Homo sapiens: one gene and its partners. The protein of the gene in region 1 purifies or fractionates together with the protein of each later gene. This does not show direct contact. Each region holds a gene or a part of one and is shown in the gene's direction. Other genes may lie near its edges. The genes, in order: BCL2L14, GCDH, TXNDC5, USP5, COPB1, SUCLA2 and CALU.

What was found.
Region 2: the proteins of BCL2L14 (region 1) and GCDH purify together in Homo sapiens (affinity purification with mass spectrometry; one large-scale study listed by BioGRID and IntAct). This does not show direct contact.
Region 3: the proteins of BCL2L14 (region 1) and TXNDC5 purify together in Homo sapiens (pull-down; one large-scale study listed by IntAct). This does not show direct contact.
Region 4: the proteins of BCL2L14 (region 1) and USP5 purify together in Homo sapiens (affinity purification with mass spectrometry; one large-scale study listed by BioGRID and IntAct). This does not show direct contact.
Region 5: the proteins of BCL2L14 (region 1) and COPB1 purify together in Homo sapiens (affinity purification with mass spectrometry; one large-scale study listed by BioGRID and IntAct). This does not show direct contact.
Region 6: the proteins of BCL2L14 (region 1) and SUCLA2 purify together in Homo sapiens (affinity purification with mass spectrometry; one large-scale study listed by BioGRID and IntAct). This does not show direct contact.
Region 7: the proteins of BCL2L14 (region 1) and CALU purify together in Homo sapiens (affinity purification with mass spectrometry; one large-scale study listed by BioGRID and IntAct). This does not show direct contact.

The regions. Positions count from the first base shown.
Region 1 is NC_000012.12:12,084,439-12,087,938, forward strand, and holds part of BCL2L14 (apoptosis facilitator Bcl-2-like protein 14), read left to right. Parts: intron 1-2,774; coding exon 2,775-2,948; intron 2,949-3,500. UniProt on the Homo sapiens protein: Plays a role in apoptosis.
Region 2 is NC_000019.10:12,894,160-12,897,329, forward strand, and holds part of GCDH (glutaryl-CoA dehydrogenase, mitochondrial isoform a precursor), read left to right. Parts: exon of another isoform or gene 1-752; intron 753-1,832; coding exon 1,833-1,962; intron 1,963-2,045; coding exon 2,046-2,262; intron 2,263-2,750; coding exon 2,751-2,854; intron 2,855-3,143; coding exon 3,144-3,170. UniProt on the Homo sapiens protein: Catalyzes the oxidative decarboxylation of glutaryl-CoA to crotonyl-CoA and CO(2) in the degradative pathway of L-lysine, L-hydroxylysine, and L-tryptophan metabolism. It uses electron transfer flavoprotein as its electron acceptor. Isoform Short is inactive.
Region 3 is NC_000006.12:7,881,017-7,883,902, reverse strand, and holds the end of TXNDC5 (thioredoxin domain-containing protein 5 isoform 1 precursor), read left to right. Parts: intron 1-636; coding exon 637-759; 3' UTR 760-2,386; downstream 2,387-2,886. UniProt on the Homo sapiens protein: Protein disulfide isomerase of the endoplasmic reticulum lumen involved in the formation of disulfide bonds in proteins. Can reduce insulin disulfide bonds.
Region 4 is NC_000012.12:6,855,150-6,858,649, forward strand, and holds part of USP5 (ubiquitin carboxyl-terminal hydrolase 5), read left to right. Parts: intron 1-205; exon of another isoform or gene 206-251; coding exon 252-377; intron 378-479; exon of another isoform or gene 480-605; coding exon 606-672; intron 673-867; coding exon 868-1,001; intron 1,002-1,155; coding exon 1,156-1,301; intron 1,302-1,557; coding exon 1,558-1,742; intron 1,743-2,479; coding exon 2,480-2,574; intron 2,575-3,274; coding exon 3,275-3,468; intron 3,469-3,500. UniProt on the Homo sapiens protein: Deubiquitinating enzyme that participates in a wide range of cellular processes by specifically cleaving isopeptide bonds between ubiquitin and substrate proteins or ubiquitin itself.
Region 5 is NC_000011.10:14,475,812-14,479,311, reverse strand, and holds part of COPB1 (coatomer subunit beta), read left to right. Parts: intron 1-2,296; coding exon 2,297-2,393; intron 2,394-3,366; coding exon 3,367-3,500. UniProt on the Homo sapiens protein: The coatomer is a cytosolic protein complex that binds to dilysine motifs and reversibly associates with Golgi non-clathrin-coated vesicles, which further mediate biosynthetic protein transport from the ER, via the Golgi up to the trans Golgi network.
Region 6 is NC_000013.11:47,991,274-47,994,773, reverse strand, and holds part of SUCLA2 (succinate--CoA ligase [ADP-forming] subunit beta, mitochondrial precursor), read left to right. Parts: intron 1-3,500. UniProt on the Homo sapiens protein: ATP-specific succinyl-CoA synthetase functions in the citric acid cycle (TCA), coupling the hydrolysis of succinyl-CoA to the synthesis of ATP and thus represents the only step of substrate-level phosphorylation in the TCA.
Region 7 is NC_000007.14:128,745,859-128,749,358, forward strand, and holds part of CALU (calumenin isoform a precursor), read left to right. Parts: intron 1-1,694; exon of another isoform or gene 1,695-2,496; coding exon of another isoform or gene 2,497-2,509; intron 2,510-2,714; coding exon of another isoform or gene 2,715-2,725; coding exon 2,726-2,946; intron 2,947-3,500. UniProt on the Homo sapiens protein: Involved in regulation of vitamin K-dependent carboxylation of multiple N-terminal glutamate residues. Seems to inhibit gamma-carboxylase GGCX. Binds 7 calcium ions with a low affinity.

The DNA.
Region 1 (3,500 bases):
AGCAGTCCATAAGGAAGTCACACCCCAACCCCCTGCCCTTTCTCTTTAAAACAAATGCCTCAGACCACAGGCGAAATGGGACCTTCCGACCCTGTTGGCCTGCTCTTCCTGGCGCCACGATGACCCCCAAAACAGACTCCAAGGAACAGACAGCCTTTCTGTCTTCTCCCCACCCCATCCAGTGTTCCCTCGCCTATCAGACAGGACCAAGTCTGACAAGGATATAATCTTTTCTTTTTCATGTTTTAAAATTAAAATATCCAAGATGGGAATTTTAACTAGAGCTAGTGCATCTGTGGGAACATGTTTGCTTATAGTTTCTCCTGGACATGTCTCACTCCATGTCCACAAACCCACAGAAATCAATACCCTGCTGTAACCCCAGCACTTTGGGAGGCTGAGGCAGGAGGATCACCTGAGGTCAAGAGTTCAAGACCAGCCTGGCCAACATGGCAAAACCCTGTCTCTACTGAAAATATACAAAAATTAGCTGGACGTAGTGGCGGGAGCCACTACGTCCTGTAATCCCAGCTACACAGGAGGCTGAGGCAGAGAGAATGGCTTGAACCCAGAAGGTGGAGGTTGCAGCGAGCCGAGATCGTGCCATTGCACTCCAGCCTGGGCAACAGAGCGAGACTCCGTCTCAAAAAAAAAAAAAAAAAAAAAGTCAATACCCTGTACACAGTTAGCCAGATTGAGTAATTTTGTACCTGTTGGTGATCTTGTGGCCACCCTGCCTTATGAGAGGAGGAGGGGACAGAGCCTTTGGGACCCTTCATGGAGCTTCTTAATGTGCAAGATGGGCACAGGGTGCTTTCTGGTGGTAGAACCGCATGCTGATTACCCTAGATGAGCTGCACAAGGTTGAAAAGGCAGCAGAGGCCTGCTTTCCTTTCTCATCTCCTGAGGACATGGCCAGGGAAGTTTCCCTTGGCTTTGGAAGATAGCCTCTTGCCATTTCTTTCTTTGCCAGGGGCCATGGGTGGCCAGAGTTCCAGCGGAGGCCGGCTGGGCTGCAATAAGGGGATTACAAAGTGGAAAGTCTGTTTCGCTTGGTTCTTAAAAAACGAGGAGGAAAGACATTGATCCTTTTCTTCTTGATCTTTCTTCTCTCCGTCATTCGCTTCTTATTGGTTTTTGAACCCTGTGGACTAACCATGGAAAAGATGGCTTTATGAGTCAGATGTCCACCAGAGGATGGCATCATGGACAGAGCAGTATCTTCTGTGGCCTTTCCGTGAATGGCTGGAGGGCTGAAGGGAGGACACTGAAGCCTTCAGCTTGGAGGAATCCAGGGAGAGGGATCAGGAGCCACCTTGGCAGCTGCATATGATGTCAAAACCTGTTTCTCTTGTGGCTCAGTCCCTCCCAGGCCCCCTACTTGCCTCTCTTACCTCCAGTGCTGTACAAAGCCCAGAAGTGCCCTAGGAGTTTGAGCACACCAACCTTCTGTCCAAAACGCCACTCCATTACTGTCTTCAAGTCCTGTGAATTACCTAATGTTAGTCTTCAAATGTTACATGGTAAAACCCAGCTGCTCCACACGGCATCCAAGACAGCTTGTACAAGCTTTTAAAAGTTTAGGATTTAGGTTGGGTGTGGTGGTGGCTCATCCTTGTAATCCTAGCACTTTGGGAGGCTGATGTGGGAGGATTGCTTGCGCTTAGGAGTTCAAGAACAACCTGGGCAACATAGGGAGACCTTATCTCTAGAAAAAGAATTTTAATAAATTAGCCAGGCGTGGTGATGCACACCTGTCATCCCAGCTACTCAGGAGGCTGAGGTGGGACAATCGCTTGAGCCTGAGAGATCCAAGCTGCAGTGAGCTGTGATCACACCACTGCACTCCAGCCTGGGTGACAGAGTGAGACTCTGTCTGGAAAAAAGTAAATAAACAAATAAAAGGTTAGAACTTAGTGACAAATCAACAGTGAAAATTTTACCACCCAGCAACTCAGCCATGCCATCTGCCCACCCCACCTCCCCTCTTCCCCACTCAGGGGCAAAGGCGACTGGTCTCTTATAGGCTACAACACTCACTGGGCCAATGCCATTTCACCGTCCTATCTCAAAGTGCTTTATTCTACAATTCTGTATGCAAATACATGACGTAACTCTTTTCTCAGCTTGTAAATTCTTGAAGGCCGTAAGTTGTGCTGACTGCATCCTTGTTTACCTATAAGCATTCATTGAATGTTTTCCAGTAGACATGGAGAGGAGAGAAGAGGCAGAACTGTACCAGCAACGGGAGTTAGGTGTTCACTTGATAATGGACTTGGATGATGAATCTCATTGCCCTGAGAGCAGGGATATTTCTTTCTTCAGTGACCAACCCCGAAATGCTTGTCAAATTATCGAATGTCCTCCTATGCATGTAGGGGCTGGCTCTTAGAGGTATAAAGCATGTCGAGAAAAAAGAATAAAAATAAAAGCATAATGAGCATTCCTTCAAGTAAAGAGCTAAGCACTCCTTTTTGTGTCTCTTCCCTTGCAAAGGGGAAAGGAGACCCTAATTTTGCAAGACTTCAAAAAGAGTGTGCAGAAGGCCAATTGTTTCAAGGTGACAATCATTCCTGCATGCACCCCTCCCACATCCCGGCCTCTGCCAGGCAACTTTCAGTCCTTTCTGAAGAATGACCCTCCCCCAGCACACATACTCCCAGGCAGTTTCCTTCTATTCTGGCCTGGTCTTTTCATTCCAGGCAACTTTGCATACCAATGAGCCAGATGAAGTTCTGGGAAGGGCCTCTCAGCACCATTTTGTCTTGTTTCAGCTGTGGACCCCAAAGTCATTTCCATTGCCAACCGAGTAGCTGAAATTGTTTACTCCTGGCCACCACCACAAGCGACCCAGGCAGGAGGCTTCAAGTCCAAAGAGATTTTTGTAACTGAGGGTCTCTCCTTCCAGCTCCAAGGCCACGTGCCTGTAGCTTCAAGTTCTAAGAAAGGTAAGCTTTCCTTCCCTGGGTGGAGTGTTTGCCAGGCAGGGGCGCAGGAGCATTTGTGTATTTATCCATCCCAGGGCTCGGCAACTTGACAGTCTCCGCTGCCTGGACTGAGGGCTTGACAGCCACAGGCTGTGGGCAATGAGCTCCAGCTTGAGACACCAGCCCAAGGCAAGGGGGCTGCCCCAGCAGGTTGAAAAAACATTCCCAGCTCTCTGCTAAGTAAGAAAGGAAAGTCTCCTACAGAGGGAGAGGAGGAAACACAAAGCCCGCATTCAGCCTTGTCTGTGGCGGAAAATGCAATGTTAGATCTGATCATGTTACCAGTGACCCTGGGCCAATTTGCATCAGGTACAGTTGGAGCGTCAAGCCAGGGATTTATATTATAACATTGCTTTAGGGCTTTGTGAAAAAGCAGGGGTTGTCAGGCACCAGCTATGGTGCAAGACATGGAGCAGAACTGAGAAGTAGTGACAAGGCTGGGTCAGTTGTCACCCAAACCATAGCAATAGCTGAGACTGTAGATCCCATCAGGCTGGTGGTAACTCAAGGCAC
Region 2 (3,170 bases), on another chromosome or scaffold:
ACTGGCTGCCAGAAACTCATTGAAGTGGACGATGAACGCAAACTTTGTACTTTTTATGAGAAGCGTATGGCCACAGAAGTTGCTGTTGACGCTCTGGGTGAAGAATGGAAGGGTTACGTGGTCGGAATCAGTGGTGGGAACAATAAACAAGGTTTCCCCTTGAAACAGGGTGTCTTGACCCATGGCCGTGTCCACTTGCTACTGAGTAAGGGGCATTCCTATTACAGACCAAGGAGAACTGGAGAAAGAAAGAGAAGATCAGTTCATGGTTGCATCGTGGATGCCAATCTGAGTGTTCTCAACTTGGTTATTGTAAAAAAAAGGAGAGAAGGGTATTCCTGGACTGACTGAGACTATGATGCCTCGTCACCTGGGGCCCAGTACAGCTAGCAGAATCCGTAAACTTTTCAGTCTCTCTAAAGAAAATGATGTCTGCCAGTATGTTGTAAAAAAGCCCTTAAACAAAGAAGGTAAGAAACCTAGGACCAAAGCACCCAAGATTCAGCGCCTTGTCACTCCACATGTCCTGCAGCACAAACAGCGGCGTATTGCTCTGAAGCAGCCGCATATTAAGAAAAATAAAGAAGAGGCTGCAGAATATGCTAAACTTTTGGCCAAGAGAATGAAGGAGGCTAAGAAGCACCAGGGACAAATCGTGAAGAGACGCAGACTGTCCTCTCTGCGAGCTTCCACTTCTAAGTCTGAATCCAGTCAGAAATAAGATTTTTTGAGTAACAAATAAGATCAGATTCGCAAAAAAAAAAAAAAACCCACAAGGCCCTGTGTGACCAGGCCTCTGCTGACCTTTCCACCTCATCTCTGGCCACTCATGTGATCCTCCCAGCCAGACTTAGCTACTTGAAATTCTCCAGAAGTACCACCAGTTCTTTACACATCTGTTCCCTCTCCCAGCACTGCTCTTCCCCACAGCCTCCTCCTGCTTAACTCCTCACACCCTTCCAGTTTGGCCAACTCCTTCCTGATTCCCTGGGTCCCCCTCCCCATCTTGGCATTGTGATCATGACTTTGGGGTAACCTGTCTCTTGAAAGCAGGGCCAGATCTAACTTAGTTATGAGGTCTGACTCAGGGGCGAGGGTAATTTTTTTTTTCTTTTTTTGAGACAAAGTCCCGCTCCGTCCCCCAGGCTGAAGTGCAGTGGTACAATCTTGGCTCACTGCAACCTGCGGTTCCCCAGTTCAAGCAATTCCTGTGCCTCGGCCTCCCAATTAGCTGGGATTGCAGGTGCTTGCTACCCGTGCCTGGCTAATTTTTGTATTTTTAGTAGAGATGGTGTTTCACTATGTTGGCCAGGCTGGTCTCGAACTCCAGACCTCAAGTGATCCATCTGCCTTGGCCTCCCAAAGTGCTGAGATTACATGTGTGAGCCACCTCGACTGGCCTAATTTTTTGTATTTTTAGTAGAGATGGGGTTTCACCATATTGGTCAGGCTGGATTTTTTTTCTTTTTTGAGATGGAGTCTTGCTCTGTTGCCCAGGCTGTAGTGCAGTGGCATGATCTTGGCTCACTGCAACCTCTCCTGCCCGGGTTCAAGCGATTCTCCTGCCTCAGTCTCCTGAGTAGCTGGGATTACAGGCACCCACCACCACATCTGGCTATTTTTTTTTTTTTTTTTTTTTAAGTAGAGATGGGGTTTCACCATGTTGGCCAGGCTGGTCTGGAACTCCTGACCTCAATTGATCCACCTGCCTTGGCCTCCTAAAGTGCTGGGATGACAGGCGTGAGCCACTGCACCCCGCCACGAGGATAATTTTTGAGTAAGGGGATGTATCAGGGACCAGGCAGCCTTGTGACTTTGTCTTGTGCCTGCAGCCAAGGGGGAGCTCCTGGGCTGCTTCGGGCTCACAGAGCCCAACAGCGGAAGTGACCCCAGCAGCATGGAGACCAGAGCCCACTACAACTCATCCAACAAGAGCTACACCCTCAATGGGACCAAGACCTGGTAAGGGTTCTGGGTGGTGGGCAGGTGGTGAACAGGGGCAAAGGGGCACTGGTCAGACCCCTCACCGACTGTTCCATCCCCAGGATCACGAACTCGCCTATGGCCGATCTGTTTGTAGTGTGGGCTCGGTGTGAAGATGGCTGCATTCGGGGCTTCCTGCTGGAGAAGGGGATGCGGGGTCTCTCGGCCCCCAGGATCCAGGGCAAGTTCTCGCTGCGGGCCTCAGCCACAGGCATGATCATCATGGACGGTGTGGAGGTGCCAGAGGAGAATGTGCTCCCTGGTGCATCCAGCCTGGGGGTAAGTGGCAGCCACTTTGGGAATGGGTGTTGGGTCACCTGCGGATGCGGCTTTGTCAGGCAGGCTCCGTGCTGGGGACGCGGCTCCCTGTGCCTGTGGAGCCCACACAGTGGTGATTCTTACTCAGCCGGACTCGCTGACGTGCTGAAAACTGCCCCCATTTGGTGACCGTCTCGCTCATCCCGGCTCTGCCCGGGACACATGGGCCTGAACCAGCTCAGTCATTTGACTCACAGTGCATCTTCTGGCATCCGTCAGCCTCCTGGCTCTGAGCATCGAACCCAGATGCCAGGCTGGGTGGGACTGTGTGCAAACCGAGTGAGCAGGCACCGAGCTTCAGTGCCAGGGCCATCTGTGATGTGAACCACAACCTGAGTCCCCCTGCGTGGGGTGGCTGGGGAGGAGGCTTTCCCTGCTTCAGAGTTGGTTCTGCATAGGCCCTCTTGGTGTCTCTTGGGTGGGCCTGAGGCGCCATCTCAACCCTACAGGGTCCCTTCGGCTGCCTGAACAACGCCCGGTACGGCATCGCGTGGGGCGTGCTTGGAGCTTCGGAGTTCTGCTTGCACACAGCCCGGCAGTACGCCCTCGACAGGTGTGTGAGGGCTGCAGTGAGATTCTCTGGGGGTGTGGGGCAGCTTGGGTTTCACTCTCTATACCATGGGTGACTCCCCAGCCCCCACCCACCAGGCCTGAGTTCCTTGCTCTGGAATGACCAGTGACGTCCTTCTGAGCAGCTGTGGGCTGAGTCAACGGCAGGGCCAGGGCAAGCTTGGGGGCACTGAGGCAGCCTGGGAAGGCGTCCTGGAGCAGGGGGCCCCAGGACAGGGACGGGGTGGGAGAGTGGGCCTCCCCTCGCTCTTACCCTGCCATTGCCCATGTAGGATGCAGTTTGGTGTCCCACTGGCCAG
Region 3 (2,886 bases), on another chromosome or scaffold:
GGTCCTGTGCTTGGGTTAACTACTGCCTTCATTCCAAGCTGTTAGCACAGTCTGATGGCCTGGAAGATTTGTCATTTTTTTTCTTCTTTGTTATTCAGACACTTTTGGAGCCCTTTAGATGGAGAATAGACGTAACCCAGACATAGTTTCCTTATCATTAAAAGATACCAGTTGTTTTTTGTGCCCTAAAATTCTTAGAAACGAGTTGCCACTGAAACATGTATCCTCAAGAGGATCTTGCTCTCATGGTCTGGTCTGCAGACCACCAGGGCATCGCCAGGGAGGTCATTGGAAATGCAGACTCCCAGGCCTGCTCAATCCAAATCTGCACCTTCAGCAGATCCGCAGGTGATCGTGTGCACAGTAAAGACTGAAAGCGTCTGCTTTAGGGTAAAGTCGTTCCTTTGAGGCTGATCTTTAATGATGTCATTTTGAATTCAGAAGTGAACACACAGCCCCACGGCTGTGCTTTCTAAACAGTAGTCTGCTCCTGTTTTAATGGAATATACACCTTTAAAAATTAGCCACAGAATTTTTCCAGCCACAACGGTAGGAGTGTATCTGGTTTTATTTAGGAAGCAATTTGCATGTGATCTGGACCGCTGGTTTGCAAACTTTTTTCTTTTTTGTTTTAAGGTACGAGGCTACCCCACGTTATTGCTTTTCCGAGGAGGGAAGAAAGTCAGTGAGCACAGTGGAGGCAGAGACCTTGACTCGTTACACCGCTTTGTCCTGAGCCAAGCGAAAGACGAACTTTAGGAACACAGTTGGAGGTCACCTCTCCTGCCCAGCTCCCGCACCCTGCGTTTAGGAGTTCAGTCCCACAGAGGCCACTGGGTTCCCAGTGGTGGCTGTTCAGAAAGCAGAACATACTAAGCGTGAGGTATCTTCTTTGTGTGTGTGTTTTCCAAGCCAACACACTCTACAGATTCTTTATTAAGTTAAGTTTCTCTAAGTAAATGTGTAACTCATGGTCACTGTGTAAACATTTTCAGTGGCGATATATCCCCTTTGACCTTCTCTTGATGAAATTTACATGGTTTCCTTTGAGACTAAAATAGCGTTGAGGGAAATGAAATTGCTGGACTATTTGTGGCTCCTGAGTTGAGTGATTTTGGTGAAAGAAAGCACATCCAAAGCATAGTTTACCTGCCCACGAGTTCTGGAAAGGTGGCCTTGTGGCAGTATTGACGTTCCTCTGATCTTAAGGTCACAGTTGACTCAATACTGTGTTGGTCCGTAGCATGGAGCAGATTGAAATGCAAAAACCCACACCTCTGGAAGATACCTTCACGGCCGCTGCTGGAGCTTCTGTTGCTGTGAATACTTCTCTCAGTGTGAGAGGTTAGCCGTGATGAAAGCAGCGTTACTTCTGACCGTGCCTGAGTAAGAGAATGCTGATGCCATAACTTTATGTGTCGATACTTGTCAAATCAGTTACTGTTCAGGGGATCCTTCTGTTTCTCACGGGGTGAAACATGTCTTTAGTTCCTCATGTTAACACGAAGCCAGAGCCCACATGAACTGTTGGATGTCTTCCTTAGAAAGGGTAGGCATGGAAAATTCCACGAGGCTCATTCTCAGTATCTCATTAACTCATTGAAAGATTCCAGTTGTATTTGTCACCTGGGGTGACAAGACCAGACAGGCTTTCCCAGGCCTGGGTATCCAGGGAGGCTCTGCAGCCCTGCTGAAGGGCCCTAACTAGAGTTCTAGAGTTTCTGATTCTGTTTCTCAGTAGTCCTTTTAGAGGCTTGCTATACTTGGTCTGCTTCAAGGAGGTCGACCTTCTAATGTATGAAGAATGGGATGCATTTGATCTCAAGACCAAAGACAGATGTCAGTGGGCTGCTCTGGCCCTGGTGTGCACGGCTGTGGCAGCTGTTGATGCCAGTGTCCTCTAACTCATGCTGTCCTTGTGATTAAACACCTCTATCTCCCTTGGGAATAAGCACATACAGGCTTAAGCTCTAAGATAGATAGGTGTTTGTCCTTTTACCATCGAGCTACTTCCCATAATAACCACTTTGCATCCAACACTCTTCACCCACCTCCCATACGCAAGGGGATGTGGATACTTGGCCCAAAGTAACTGGTGGTAGGAATCTTAGAAACAAGACCACTTATACTGTCTGTCTGAGGCAGAAGATAACAGCAGCATCTCGACCAGCCTCTGCCTTAAAGGAAATCTTTATTAATCACGTATGGTTCACAGATAATTCTTTTTTTAAAAAAACCCAACCTCCTAGAGAAGCACAACTGTCAAGAGTCTTGTACACACAACTTCAGCTTTGCATCACGAGTCTTGTATTCCAAGAAAATCAAAGTGGTACAATTTGTTTGTTTACACTATGATACTTTCTAAATAAACTCTTTTTTTTTAAAAGTCTGGTCTTTCCTTCAATGTTACAGCAAAACAGATATAAAATAGACAATAAATTATAGTTTATATTTACAAAAAAAGCTGTAAGTGCAAACAGTTGTAGATTATAAATGTATTATTTAATCAGTTTAGTATGAAATTGCCTTCCCAGTACATGATTGTGAAAAAGACATTTAGAAAATATTCTAAAATTTAATCTGAGCCTCACTTTCTACAAGGGAAATCATGATTTCCGTTCATAAACAGCATGCTCATCCCCCTAACACCATTCTTATAAGCTGGGCACCCTCATTTTATTTTCTTCGTTGGTTCTAACCCTGTGGCGTGGTATGCTGTATAGTAAAAAGGCAGAGAACCACTTTACTGAAAAGGTACTAGAGCCGGCAGTCCAGAAGTTAATGTGCTGGTCAAAGAACCGTTCTGGTAAAGAAGAGGTGAGCATTGCCTTCACGTGTTACACGGTTACACACCCCTTGTAGCCTCACCTCAGTGTAATCAGTCTA
Region 4 (3,500 bases), 5.2 Mb from region 1:
ACGATGAGCTGGTGTTCCTCAGCCCCCTGATGTCCTTGTTGGTTGTTATCAAAGTCATGGGAGGAAATGGGGAGAATCTTAGCTATGTCCCAGGTCCTAAAAGGCTAAATAACTTGCCAAGGGCCACACAGTGTTAGAGAACAGAACATTTCTTCTGGAACCCAGCAGTTTCTGACTCCAGGTTTTGGTTTCCTCACCTGACCAGGCTTCATAACATCCTCGTGTTTTCACCCTTACCTCTTGTCCCACAGGAGTCTGAGGGGGGCCTCTACATCTGTATGAACACGTTTCTGGGCTTTGGGAAACAGTATGTGGAGAGACATTTCAATAAGACCGGCCAGCGAGTCTACTTGCACCTCCGGCGGACCCGGCGCCCGGTAGGAGCAGGGCTGGGGCAAGGCCTGGGTACATTGTCTGTTCCATTCTGACCTCCTATTGGACTCAGTTTCTTTTTTTCACCTACTTTTGTGTCATTAAAGCTTGGCACAGATGTTTTTTAGCTTTATTCCGTTCTGAGATGAAGCACTACCTCCTTCCGTCCCTCCTCCCGACTTGTTCCTTCGCTCGTGCTCATTGCTGATCCAGCCCTTCCTGCTTCTTTACAGAAAGAGGAGGACCCTGCTACAGGCACTGGAGACCCACCCCGGAAGAAGCCCACGCGGCTGGCTATTGGTGAGCACCGCTGCAGTCCTATTCTTCTCCCTGAGCTGGTCTTTCTGGCTCTCAGCAGCACCAGGAAAGCCCCAAAGAGTGGGCCTGATTGATGGCCCTAGAACTCTGGATGGGGCAAGTGAGGTGCTGGCTCGGAGGAGGGACATTGACCTGTTGTCATTGCTCTACTCTCCCTCTTCTTCCCTATCCTTCCAGGTGTTGAAGGCGGATTTGACCTTAGCGAGGAGAAGTTTGAATTAGACGAGGATGTGAAGATTGTCATTTTGCCAGATTACCTGGAGATTGCCCGGGATGGACTGGGGGGACTGCCTGACATTGTCAGAGATCGGGTATGACTGCCCCCTATGCTACCCAAGATTCTAGAGCAAGATGGGCCAGGGTAGTGGTGTCTTAGGCAAGCACTGACAAAGCTGAAGGCCAAGGGGAAGAGGGGCATGTGGGGCAGGGGGTTGGGTATTGCCTCTGACCCTCTGCTTCCCCCAGGTGACCAGTGCAGTGGAGGCCCTACTGTCGGCCGACTCAGCCTCCCGCAAGCAGGAGGTGCAGGCATGGGATGGGGAAGTACGGCAGGTGTCTAAGCATGCCTTCAGCCTCAAGCAGTTGGACAACCCTGCTCGAATCCCTCCCTGGTGAGGCCTGGCCCCTCTGCCTCGGGCACCACCCCCAGAGCAAGGACAAGGAGCCCACTTTTCTGGGGGATCTGGTGGGAGAGAGGGTAGGGAGCAGGACAGGAAGGGAAGCTTGGAAATGAACACGACATGGGGATGGCCAGAGGAGAAGAGAGAGAGACCTTGGATTGGCGGGGGGCCTGCAGAGCCCTCTCTCTCTGCCACTCCCTCAAATCCCCGACCCACATTTCTGCTGATTCTCTTCTCTGTGGGTTAGTGGCTGGAAGTGCTCCAAGTGTGACATGAGAGAGAACCTGTGGCTCAACCTGACTGATGGCTCCATCCTCTGTGGGCGACGCTACTTCGATGGCAGTGGGGGCAACAACCACGCTGTGGAGCACTACCGAGAGACAGGCTACCCGTTAGCTGTCAAGCTGGGCACCATCACCCCTGATGGAGCTGGTACAGCCTCCCCTCCTCCAGCCACTCTCATGCTTAAATATATTTCATTTGTTAGTAATTTCGTGTGACATGTATAATACATGAATGCATTATCTTGATAAGAAAGGAAAGTAGTCAGGTGCGGTGGCTCATGTTTGCAATCCCAACACTTTGGGAGGCCAAGGCAGGAGAATTGCTTGAGCCTAGGAGTTCGAGACCAGCCTGGGCAACATAGTGAGACCTCATCTCTCCAAAAAAGAAAAAAAAAGAAAAATTGGCTGGGTGTGGTAGCTCCTGCCTGTAGTCTCACCTACTCAGGAGGCTGAGGCAGGAGGATTGTTTGAGCACCCGGGAGGTTGAGGCTGCAGTGAGCTATGATTGCACCACTGGACTCCAGCCTGGGCTACAGAGACCCTGTCTCAAAAAAGGAAAATACTGCAGATGAGACTAAATTTTTGATTACTCCCCACTCAAATCCTCATCCCTTTCCTACCAAGCCTGTCTTACCTTATCCTATACAGGTAGAATCAGAATCACAAGTAATTCCAACCCTCACCCGGTTTCATCTGTCTTCCCTGACCGTCAGCCCCAGAAGGGCCATGACCGCACTCATATTACTCATATTCAAGGGAACCAAGAGGGTGGACCTTACTGGCTCTCCTTCTGTCCCCTCAAGTCCCTTCTGTGCAAGGGATGGGATGGTGGCCTGGCTAGTCCTGAGCCACTTCCCCTGATTCTCTTCCTGCCTCCTGCTCTAGACGTGTACTCATATGATGAGGATGACATGGTCCTGGACCCCAGCCTGGCTGAGCACCTGTCCCACTTCGGCATCGACATGCTGAAGATGCAGAAGGTGAGACCCCCTTCAACTTCAGATTCTTCTACTTCCTGCCCCTGTGAGGGCCCTTCCTCTTTGCCTGAGGCTGAGGTAGGGTTTTGGAGAAATCTTCTAGTTAACCCCATCCCCAAGATACACAGGCTTCTTTTAAATATCTAAAATCATTTATTCAGTGAATAGTACTGAGTACCTACTATGTGCTAGAGGCTGTGTGAATAAGACAGATGTGGTTTTTGCTTACAAGAGTTCTACTCTAGAAGAAAAGGCAGACATTAGTCACATTCCCAGATAAATAAGTGAATAGTTGCAAACTGGTGGGCACTGTGAAAGAGAGGCGGAGGGTACTACAGTAATTGACAGCAGGGTGGCCTGGCCTAGTTTAGGGATCAGGGACATTTCCCTGAGGAAGCGATGCTTAACTGACAATGTGAAGGAGGTTAGGGGTAACTTAAGGATGGGAAAAACATTTCAGGTAGAAGGAAATTTTATTCCTCATTCAAGCAGAGGCCCTGATGACTAACGGGCCTCTGGGACAATTATGTGTGGCCTTCCAGAACTTGAACTGGACGATACTCAACATACCTCCCATGTTTGAGCCTGTAATTCCACAAATTCTAGGCCACAGTTGAGTATCATCCTAGACTCAGTGAGAGATCGAGGTAAAAACTACAGGGTTGAGTTTCTCACTCAGTCTGAAGTGCCCCTTCTCACACAGACAGACAAGACGATGACTGAGTTGGAGATAGACATGAACCAGCGGATTGGTGAATGGGAGCTGATCCAGGAGTCAGGTGTGCCACTCAAGCCCCTGTTTGGGCCTGGCTACACAGGCATCCGGAACCTGGGTAACAGCTGCTACCTCAACTCTGTGGTCCAGGTGCTCTTCAGCATCCCTGACTTCCAGAGGAAGTGAGTAGTGCCCTCTCCTTCCCCAGGCCCCC
Region 5 (3,500 bases), on another chromosome or scaffold:
AGAGCATATTTTTAAATGGCATCACTTTTTGGCTATTACTATTATTTATATCTTCCTTTCACATTTAATGAAGAGAAAGATTGAAAATGCAACCTAAATCTGTCTTTCCCTTCAGAGAGCCTTTGCTAATGAGAAAGGACTGTTGCATCTAAATTTTGCTTCATTTAAAGCATCTGATGGATAGTCTCTAACAGACTTGAAATATGTCTCAGGAAGGAAGGGACAAGTACAAAATTGTTTTTATGATATGAAAATATATTAATATTTATGGAAGTGAGCAGAGCAGGATTTGCTTCCTTTGTGAGAAGAAAATCATATTAAGGATTTGCTTTTTTTTTTTTTTTTTTTTTTTTTGTGAGAGGGCTTTCCGGCAAAAACCAGAAAGCCTGCTAAACAAATTTTAAAAGAGCTATGACATTAAGAATTTGTTTTTGACAGCCATAATCTCTTAGAGCTTTGGTTTCTATAATTAAGTTTTTCTGAATAAATTTAATTAAAATCTTAGGGGAAAGATGACTAAGGACTTTATTCAGTTTAACATTTTAAACTAAAGAATTGTTGGCTGGGTATGGTGGCTCACACTTGTATTCCCAGCACTTTGGGAGGCCAAGGCAGGAGAATTGCTGGATGTCAGGAGTTGGAGACCAGCCTGGGCAACATGGTGAGACTTTGTCTCTATTTATTTTTTTAATCTAAATGAATGAATGAATGGTTGCTTTCTTTACTATTATTTTTTTACTGATCCCTTGTACTTCTTCTGTATCCATTGTTCAGTTCAACACCTTGCCTCTTCAGTGACTGAAAATAAAAAGTGAATTACTTTTTACATTAAAATAATACATTCCTGATTTTTTGTTTTTGTTTTTGTTTTGTTTTTACTTTATTTATTTATTTTTTTAAGAGAGATGAGGGCCTTGCTTTGTTGCCCAGGCTGGTCTCGAACTCCTGGACTAAAGCAATCCTCCCACCTCATCCTCCCCAGATGCTGAGATTACAGGTGTGAGCCACAGTGTCTGGCCATAAAATAATACATTTCTTAGAGTAGTAAGAGATTAAGCCAAATTTGCCTTCACTGTGTCCTAAATGGACACTTTACTGGGAAACATTTTGGTATTTTATTTTTACTGCTAGGTTTACCAGTTTTAGAATGTTCCTAATAATAAGAACAGTTATTTTACTTTTAATCTTTGTGATTTCTGGAGAGAACTGAAACCTAGGTTTTGTTAGATTCTTTCTGAAATATTTATCTAAAATACTTTAGAACTGCAGAATCTTGTTGGTTTTTGTTTTTTGTTTTTTTGTTATTGAGACAGAAGCTTGCTCTGTCACCCAGGCTGGAGTGCAGTGGCGCTATCTCAGGGCATTGCAACCTCCGCCTCCTGGATTCAGGCAGTTCTTTTTTTTTTTTTTTTTTTGAGATGGAGTCTTGCTCTGTCTCACAGGCTAGAGTGCAGTGGCGCGATCTCGGCTCACTGCAACCGCCGCCTCTCATGTTCAAGCGATTCTCCAGCCTCAGCCTCCCAAGTATCTGGACTACAGGTGCGTGCCACTGCATCCAGCAAATTTTTTTTGTATTTTCAGTAGAGACGAGGTTTCACCATGTTTGTGAGGCTGGTCTTGAACTCCCAACCTCAGGTGATCCGCCCGCCTCAGCCTCTCAAAGTGCTGGGATTACAGGCGTGAGCCACTGTGCCCGGCCTCAAGGAGCTCTTATGCCTCAGTTTCCTCAATAGCTGGGATTACAGATGTGCATCACCATGCCTGGCTGATTTTTGTATTTTTAGTAGAGATGGGGTTTCACCATGTTGCCCAGGCTGGTTTTGAGCTCCTGGGCTCAAGTGATCCGCTGGCCTCAGCCTCCGAATGTGCTAGGATTACAGGCGTGAGCCACCGTGCCTGGCCCTTGTTTTTTTTTTTTTTTTGAGACGGAGTCTCGCTCTGTCACCCAGCCTGGAGTGCAGTGGCGCGATCTTGGCTCACTGCAAGCTCCGCTTCCCGAGAATGGGTTCCCGCCATTCTCCTGCCTCAGCCTCCCGGGTAGCTGGGACTACAGGCGCCCGCCACCATGCCCGGCTAATTTTTTTGTATTTTTAGTAGAGACGTGATTTCACCATGTTAGCCAGGATGGTCTCGATCTCCTGACCTCGTGATCCGCCCGCCTCGGCCTCCCAAAGTGCTGGGATTACAGGCGTGAGTGCCTGGCCCTTGTTTTTATTTGAGCTTAAATTAACAAAGAAAGATCTCTGCTTCAAGATTTGTCTGCCAAGTTCATGTTTCAGATCTTGTATTGTGCTAGGATTTACCGAGGAGCATTATGGATCCTGGGAGAATACTGTAGTACCAAGGAAGACATTCAGAGTGTGATGACTGAGATCCGCAGGTCCCTTGGAGAGGTATGTTTTACTTTAGTAAATGTTAGTTTATATGGTAATTTTTCCTTTAGGAAAATCTGACTTTTTATAGTGATTTGCTTACATTATTTACACTTCTGAGTTAGATTTTGTTTGAACAAAATGTTCTGTGTTTATTAAAAAAAAAAAAAAAAAAAAGAAGCAGTAGCTTGTAAAATTCTGCTTTAGCCTGTATTCTGAAGGAAGAATGCCTTAGAGTAAGTCTGACTTCAGAATATTTATGCAGTAAAACTGACAGTATTCTTCATCCTAACAACCTTATGGTAGAATAGAAAGAACAGTGGACTAATTATCAGGAGACCTGACAATTAGTTCTAGTCATTGTTGTGTCGACAGTTAGCTGGAGGACCTTGAATATAAGTTCCTCAACCTAACTTGACATCAGTGTTTTTCACCTATAAAATAAATTAAAATAGGTAATGATTAAATACTCTTAGTGCTCTTATATTAGGTAATGGACTGGTATTGAGTAATAAATACATAATAGCCATTCAGTTAATTTAAAAGTTAGTTGATGAGGTTATTATGTACAAATAAGTCGGATTTATTTCATTTTAGAAGGATGAGTACTGTTTTGGTTAAAATTTCAAGGAAAGGAATGAAGAAGAGGAATACGACTTAATGACCATCTGCTTTGTGTTAGACACTGTCCAATGCATTTTTCTATTAGGTAAAATGTGTAGAAAGAATTAAGATTTCCACTTAGCAGATTAAGAAACTGAGGTCCAAAGTAGTAAGTGGCAGAGTGAGAATTCAAACCCTGGAATATCCATCTCTGAAGCCCCTATTCTACCTACTACATTATCCTGGGAAGGAAATAAATTGAAAGCAGAGTTCCCAGTTCCAAAAATCCCATTAGGGTAATGCCTTTTTTAGAGAAACAATCAAATATTTAAAGATAATTTTGCTTGCTGTTGATACTATTACTAAAATGATGTTTCCAATTGACTTTTAGATCCCAATTGTAGAGTCAGAAATAAAGAAAGAAGCTGGTGAATTAAAACCTGAAGAAGAAATAACTGTAGGGCCAGTTCAGAAATTGGTTACTGAAATGGGTACCTATGCAACTCAGAGTGCCCTTAGCAGTTC
Region 6 (3,500 bases), on another chromosome or scaffold:
TGGAACAGATACCTTGTTCATTTAGAAAGTGTGTTTTTTGTCAAAGAATATTGCAAATGATGATTATAGTGTGGGAGGGAGACTAATAATTAACAAGGAAATTTAAATCTAGAGGAGCAGAAATGCTAGTTTTTAAAAGATAAATTTAGAAACGTCTATGAAAATATGGAGGACAATTTCGTGGTTTTTTTTTTTTTTTTTTTTTTGAGACGGAGTCTCACTCTGTCGCCCAGGCTGGAGTGCAGTGGCGCGATCTCGGCTCACTGCAACCTCCGTCTCCCAGGTTCAAGCAATTCTCCTGCCTCAGCCTCCTGAGTAGCTGGGATTACAGGTGCCCGCCACCATGCCCAGCTAATTTTTGTATTTTTAGTAGAGACGGGGTTTCACCATGTTGGTCAGGCTGGTCTCGAACCCCTGACCTTGTGATCCACCCGCCTAGGCCTCCCAAAGTGCTGGGATTACAGGCGTGAGCCACCGCACCCAGCCCAATTTTGTGTTTTTAGTGAGTCATTGATAACAAAAGATAACGATTATGGGATCTAGTTGCACAAGGTGTAGAATGAGGGACCTTAGAAATACACTTGGTTTTGTTCATGTAGCTAGCAATTCCCAATGCTGAGTTTTCATTACTTCAGGGTGATTTTTGCTTTTTGACTTTCTGCAAAATTCATAAAATGCTAATTTTCATTTCATAAAAACTCTTTTTTTTTTTTTTGAGACGGAGTTTCGTTCTTGTTGCCCAGGCTGGAGTGCAATGGCGCCATCTCAGCTCACCGCAACCTCCGCCTCCTGGGTTCAAGCAACCTCTGCCTCCTGGGTTCAAGCAGTTCTCCTGCCTCAGCCTCCTGAGTAGCTGGGATTACAGGCATGTGCCACCACCCCGGCTAATTTTGTATTTTTAGTAGAGACAGGGTTTCTCCATGTTGATCAGGCTGGTCTTAAACTCCCGACCTCAGGTGATCCACCTGCCTCACCCTCCCAAAGTGCTGGGATTACAATAGGCGTGAGCCACCAGGCCTGGCCTTCATAAAAACTCTTAACTCAGCGCTTTGCTCAACAAGTGACATAATAGAACATAAATGCTTTACAGGTGTGCCAAACTATTGTTTCTTCCCAGTCCTGTGGTGGCAGGAGAAGTTGAGTTAGCATGGGGTTTGGGGCCACTGAGCCTCTTTACCCAGTATTTCCTACCATGTCCATCATTTTCTGTTTGTGTGATGATGTGAAAAAAGTTGAGAGGCATTGTCCTGTAGGCAAGTTTTACCTGCTGTGAATAATTGAGGTTAGGAATGGAGGAATGGTTAGAAAGAAATCTAATTCTAATATTTTAAAAGACTATATGAGTCCCCAAAATGAAGGTTGGTGAGCTTGAAGATCATGAAGTTTCTGGAATAGATTATCAAAGGGATGGTTATTAGCACAGATAAATGTAGTAGATATTATTTGGGGTCAGTTCTGAGAGCAAATTATCTCTAACAGTTCATAGTTCAAGGAAATATGATTTTAGTAAGGGTTTGGCAGAATGTTTGTTGTTTTGTTTCTGAGACAGTGTCTTGTTCTGTCACCCAGGCTGGAGTGCAGTGGTGTGATCATGGCTCATTGCAGCTTCGACCTCCTGGGCTCAAGCCACTTCTCCCGTCTCAGCCTGCTGAGTAGCTGGGACTATAGGTGTGCTCCACCATGCCTGGCTAATTTTTGTATTTTTTCTTGAGATGGGGTTTCACCATGTTGCCCAGGCTGGTCTCAAACTCCGGGGCTCAAGCCTTCCACCCACCCTTGGCTTCCCAAAGTGCTGGGACTACAGGCGTGAGCCACTGCGCCTGGGCACAGATTTGGCAGAATTTTTATAATTTCCCTATTGACTATAGAAAGATAGTTTGGCTTCTAGTATATTTAAGGTGGAATCCCTATCTGGTTGAATAGATACATGTAAAGGGTGCTGATTAATGAATGTCAGCCCGGAGGGAGATTTCTAATGGCATATAATAGGACTTTACCTTCTTTCTTTCTTTTAAATATTTATTAGTTAGATACCTGTATACAAGGAATGCTTAAAATGTTTGTGAGTGACTAAAGGTAGCTGGGATAGTGATTGTGTTTTAGAGACAGTCTTGGGATCCAAAAAAGATCTTGTCTGACTAGAGCAGTGCCAAATGTAATAAGACTGCAGGTTCTATGAGGGCAGGAGAGGTCTCACTCACTGTTGTATCTACAACGCTAGCACAGTGTCTGGTATGTAGATGAACCTGTTGAGTGAATTAATGGAATTGAATAAAATGTTTGTTTCGACCAGTTGTCCTCAGACTTCTCTTCTAATCTTTCTTCCTTTCTTGATAGTTGATGAGACTGTATTTCATGAAAAATTTTTTTTTTTTTTTTTTTTTTGCTTTCGTTGTGAAGGGCTTTTTTTTTTTAGAAGGAACTTTCGAAGAATCATCTTTTGCCCTTAAAGACTTTATATTCCTAAAGAAAGGAAATTGACACTTTGCGGGGAAGAGAAGAACCTTCTGTCTTGCCAAGTGTTTTTGAAAAAATAGAGCTTCGTTACTCTTAATAGGTCAATGTGTTAAGTTCCCAGTTTAATGAATAGGAATGATTGAATTTAGCTCAGTAAAGCACAGTGTAACTATGACCATTTTTTACATTACATTTGCACTGTTTGCCTTGTAGTTCTCTTCTTCGGATATAAACAAATATTTAAAGTGCTGGAAAATCAGGACTGGACAGGTAAACAGAAACAAGTGGAATAAATAGTGGCTGCTCCCTTCCGTTTGGGCACAAACTCTCTAATTTGCCATGGTTCAGAGACAACCTGTAGTATTCTCAATAAGAACGTTATTGTTGGTTTTAAGGAAATTTCTGAGTTGTTTCTATTTGTTACCTAATATTAGTTGTGATACATTTGTGAATAGTAGAGACAGGGTAATTGAAAAGGGTTTGTCTTATCTAAACAAGATACTTTTTCTAATCAGCTCTAGTTGTAGTACTGTGCACCCAGTTTTTCCCATTGGGAGTTTTCGTAAGAGCAGTGAAGAAATCTAGATTTATAAGAATTCTGTTCATATTTTTAAATGTTCCTTTTTTTCAACATTCAGCAAAATATTATGTGCTAGGAACTCTCCCAGACGCTTGTTAACATCTATGAATACAACAAAGATTCTGCCCTCCTGGGCCTCTTTTCTGATGGGGAAGCAAAACAACAAATGATATATGTAAGAGAATTACATATGTACGAAGATGATGAATTCTATGGCGGAAAGAAGTGTAGTAGGTAAGGGGGATTGGTCACAGGTGGGCAGGTTAGTAGGGTAAGCTTCATGGGCAACATGAGATTTAAAGAGAAACTTGAAGGATCGGGGGCTTTTCCCACATGGACACCTGGTGAAGAGTATTCTAGGCAGAGGGTGCATTAGAGCCAAGTCCTGAAGGCAGGAACATGCCCAGGAATAGTGAGGGGATTAGTGCAGTTGGAACAGAGTGAGCAACCAGGAGGGCCTAGG
Region 7 (3,500 bases), on another chromosome or scaffold:
GCAGGATACAGTATTAAAGTTCACTTTCACACCAATCTTACCAGCCCACCCCATTCCTGTCTCTTCTCCCATGAACCTTGAGGTTACCACTGTTTACACATGGGTATTTGTCTTTGCACACCATTTATGTGCATGTTATATTTTATACAAATAAAAACAAGCTGGGGAGATTGTTTAATTTTGTTTTGCTTTTTATGTAAATGAGATCTTGACGTTGTTTTGAACCTTGCTTTTTTTGTTCACTTGACATATCTTGGTGAATTTTCCATTTCACTGCAGATAGATGCATCTCGTTCTTTTTTTTTTTTTACATTCTTTTTTTTGAGGAAGGGTCTCGCTCTGTCACTGAAGTGCAGTGGTGAGATCTCAGCTCACTGCAGCCTCTGCCTCCCGGGTTCCAGTACTTCTCGTGCCTCAGCCTCCTGAGTAGCTGGGACTACAGGCGTGTGCCACCACACCCAGCTAAGTTTTGTATTTTTAGTAGAGACAGGGTTTCACCGTATTTCCCAGGGTGGTCTCGAACTCCTGACCTCAAGTGATCCTCCCGCCTCGGCCTCCCAAAGTGCTGGGATTACAGGCATGAGCCACCATGCCTGGCTGCTTTTTTTATTTTTTTTGAGATAGGATCTCTGTCACCCACGCTGGAGTGCAGTGGTACAATCTCAGCTAACTGCAACCTCCACCTGGTGGGTTCAAGCTATCCTCCCACCTCAGCCTCCTGAGTAGCTGAGACTACAGGTGTATGCCACCATGCCCAGCTAATTTTTGTATTTTTAGTAGAGACAGTGTTTCGCTATCACCCAGGCTTGTCTTAAACTCCCGGATGCAAGTGATCCGCCTGCATTAGCCTCCCAAAGTCTTGGGATTACAGGCGTGAACCACCACCCCCGGCCTCATGTCATTCTTTTTTTTTTTTTTTTTTTTTTTTGAGACGGAGTCTCACTCTGTAGCCCAGGCTGGAGTGTAGAGGTGCTATCTCGGCTCACTGCAAGCTCTGCCTCCTGGGTTCACGCCATTCTCCTGCCACAGCCTCCCAAGTAGCTGGGACTACAGGCACCCACCACCACGCCCGGCTAATTTTTTGTATTTGTAGTAGAGACGGGGTTTTACCGTGTTAGCCAGGATGATCTCGATCTCCTGACCTTGTGATCCACCCGCCTCGGCCTCCCAGTGTGCTGGGATTACAAGCATGAGCCACTGCGCCCGGCCCATTCTTTTTAACCTTTGTGTATTTTTCCATAATCGAGATTTAATATATTTTACCAATTCTCTGTTTTTATTTGTTTTCCGATTTTTTAATCATTGTGAACTGTCATCATTGAACATCTTAATACAAGTATCTTTGTCTGTAAATGTGGGTATTTTGATGGGATTGAATGAAACAATGTTGAGAAACATAGCCAAGTTCTAACATTGATAGGAATAGAGTAATAAGTACCATCTTCTACCCATTTCTCTATGGGTTTCATGGTCTTGCTTTCACATTGCTTCTTCTGATGGATTTTCCTAAGTCTTAACCTTCACGTCATCAGTAACAGTACCTTATTTGAGACTGGGGCACTTGGGAATGACTGCCCCCCAACCCCCGCCCCCATTATCTCCTTAGGTACTTTTCTGTTTGTCTTACTGTGTTGTCGTATTTACTCTAGAACACTTTCCACTCTCTACTGATATGTCCTCCTCTGCCATTTCAGGACCTCCCACCCTCCCCCACTGAGCTGCCTTCCCAGTGATGAAAGAAAAAATGTAAAAGCCTGAAAACCCTTCTTCTTGATTTTTAATTTTTTTTTTTCCCTCTAAGACCTTAACCACTCTGGATAGTATCACGGGGTATCAGTAGAGTGTGCTAAACAGATGTGTACTCTGCAGCTTCTTTGCAGGTTTTTTGTCACATTTTTCAGTCAAGTGTTCCAGCTTTGTGCTTGTTCATTAGAGTCACCTGTGACTACAGAGATTCTGAAAGTTTGAATCAGGGCCTGGGAATCTGTACTTTGAACAGTACTACAGGTGGTATTTATGCCTAGGCAAGTATGGGAAACAACTGTGCAGAAGGATAAAGACGTTCTTATCTATGACTAGACCATCTGAATGATTTGGCCTTTGAAGGTGACTCAAGGTTGAGCCTGGATGTTGGAGACTTGGTGCTATAGACCAAGGAAGCTGCCAAGTATTTCGCTGGTTCCTAATCTCATGAACATCAGAATCACCTGAAAAACATTTAAAGCTACGAATGTCTGAATTCAGCTTCAGAGACTCTAAATCAATAGGAGAAACTTAAAGCTTCCTAGATGATTCTAATAACCAGCCATGTTTGAAGACCAGACCACCAATGCGTACAAGAAGTAAAGGATTTGGAGTCAACATTTAAACCTTGGTTCTTTCACTTTTAATTCTTATGAACTTGGGCAAAAGGATTAAAATTCTACTTTGGTATCTTTTGAAAGAAAACAGAAAGTGGACATTTTAACTATAAGTTTCTTATCAGCCTACAATCAGATGAAGGAAACTGGTAAAAATTTCTCACTGTAATAATTGAAGAGTCTGATATTCCACCATACTTATTTTATGGATGAAGTAATATTTGGGATAATATAAAAGACTTGCATAGATATGTATATCAAATTAATAGTTTAACTCGGATGTGAGCTTTTAATTTCTTATTTAGTTATTAAGCATACTGCCTCCTGAATTAACTGCTTTTCATTTTCTTCAAGATCTAATTATCATGGACCTGCGACAGTTTCTTATGTGCCTGTCCCTGTGCACAGCCTTTGCCTTGAGCAAACCCACAGAAAAGAAGGACCGTGTACATCATGAGCCTCAGCTCAGTGACAAGGTTCACAATGATGCTCAGAGTTTTGATTATGACCATGATGCCTTCTTGGGTGCTGAAGAAGCAAAGACCTTTGATCAGCTGACACCAGAAGAGAGCAAGGAAAGGCTTGGGTAAGGTACCACCTCTCAGGGGTCTAGTGTGGGTAATGACATTCTTTATAAAGGCTAATTCTTTTCTTTTCTGGCTCAGTTATGAGTAAAGTTATATTGAACTATTAATACATCTTCTGAAAGCTAACCATGGAATTACTACCTCTAAAATTTCATTAAATGCCTGATTTCATACATTTTTAATTGAATAACAGTTGGTGCCTCATTCTACAAAGCATCATTTTTGCATAAAAGTACCAAGTACTGCAAGACCCAACTTGAACTGCATTATCTTGCTACCAGAAGAACATAGCATGGGGGGATTTCTCATCTCTTCTCATCTCTACTGCTTTTAATTTTTAAAAACTATCTGTGCCCTACTGACCTGGCACAAGCCAAGTCTTTGATGGGCTAATAAACGGCACATTGGATCCCTATAAAGTTTATGATTTCCCGAGGTGTCCTTCACCCTCTTTATTTTCATTCTCAGATATTTGTTTAATTAAAAAACAAAAATCAAACCAACTTTGTCTTTTAGAAAATTGTAACTTAATGTCTGAGTATGAGTTACTGTT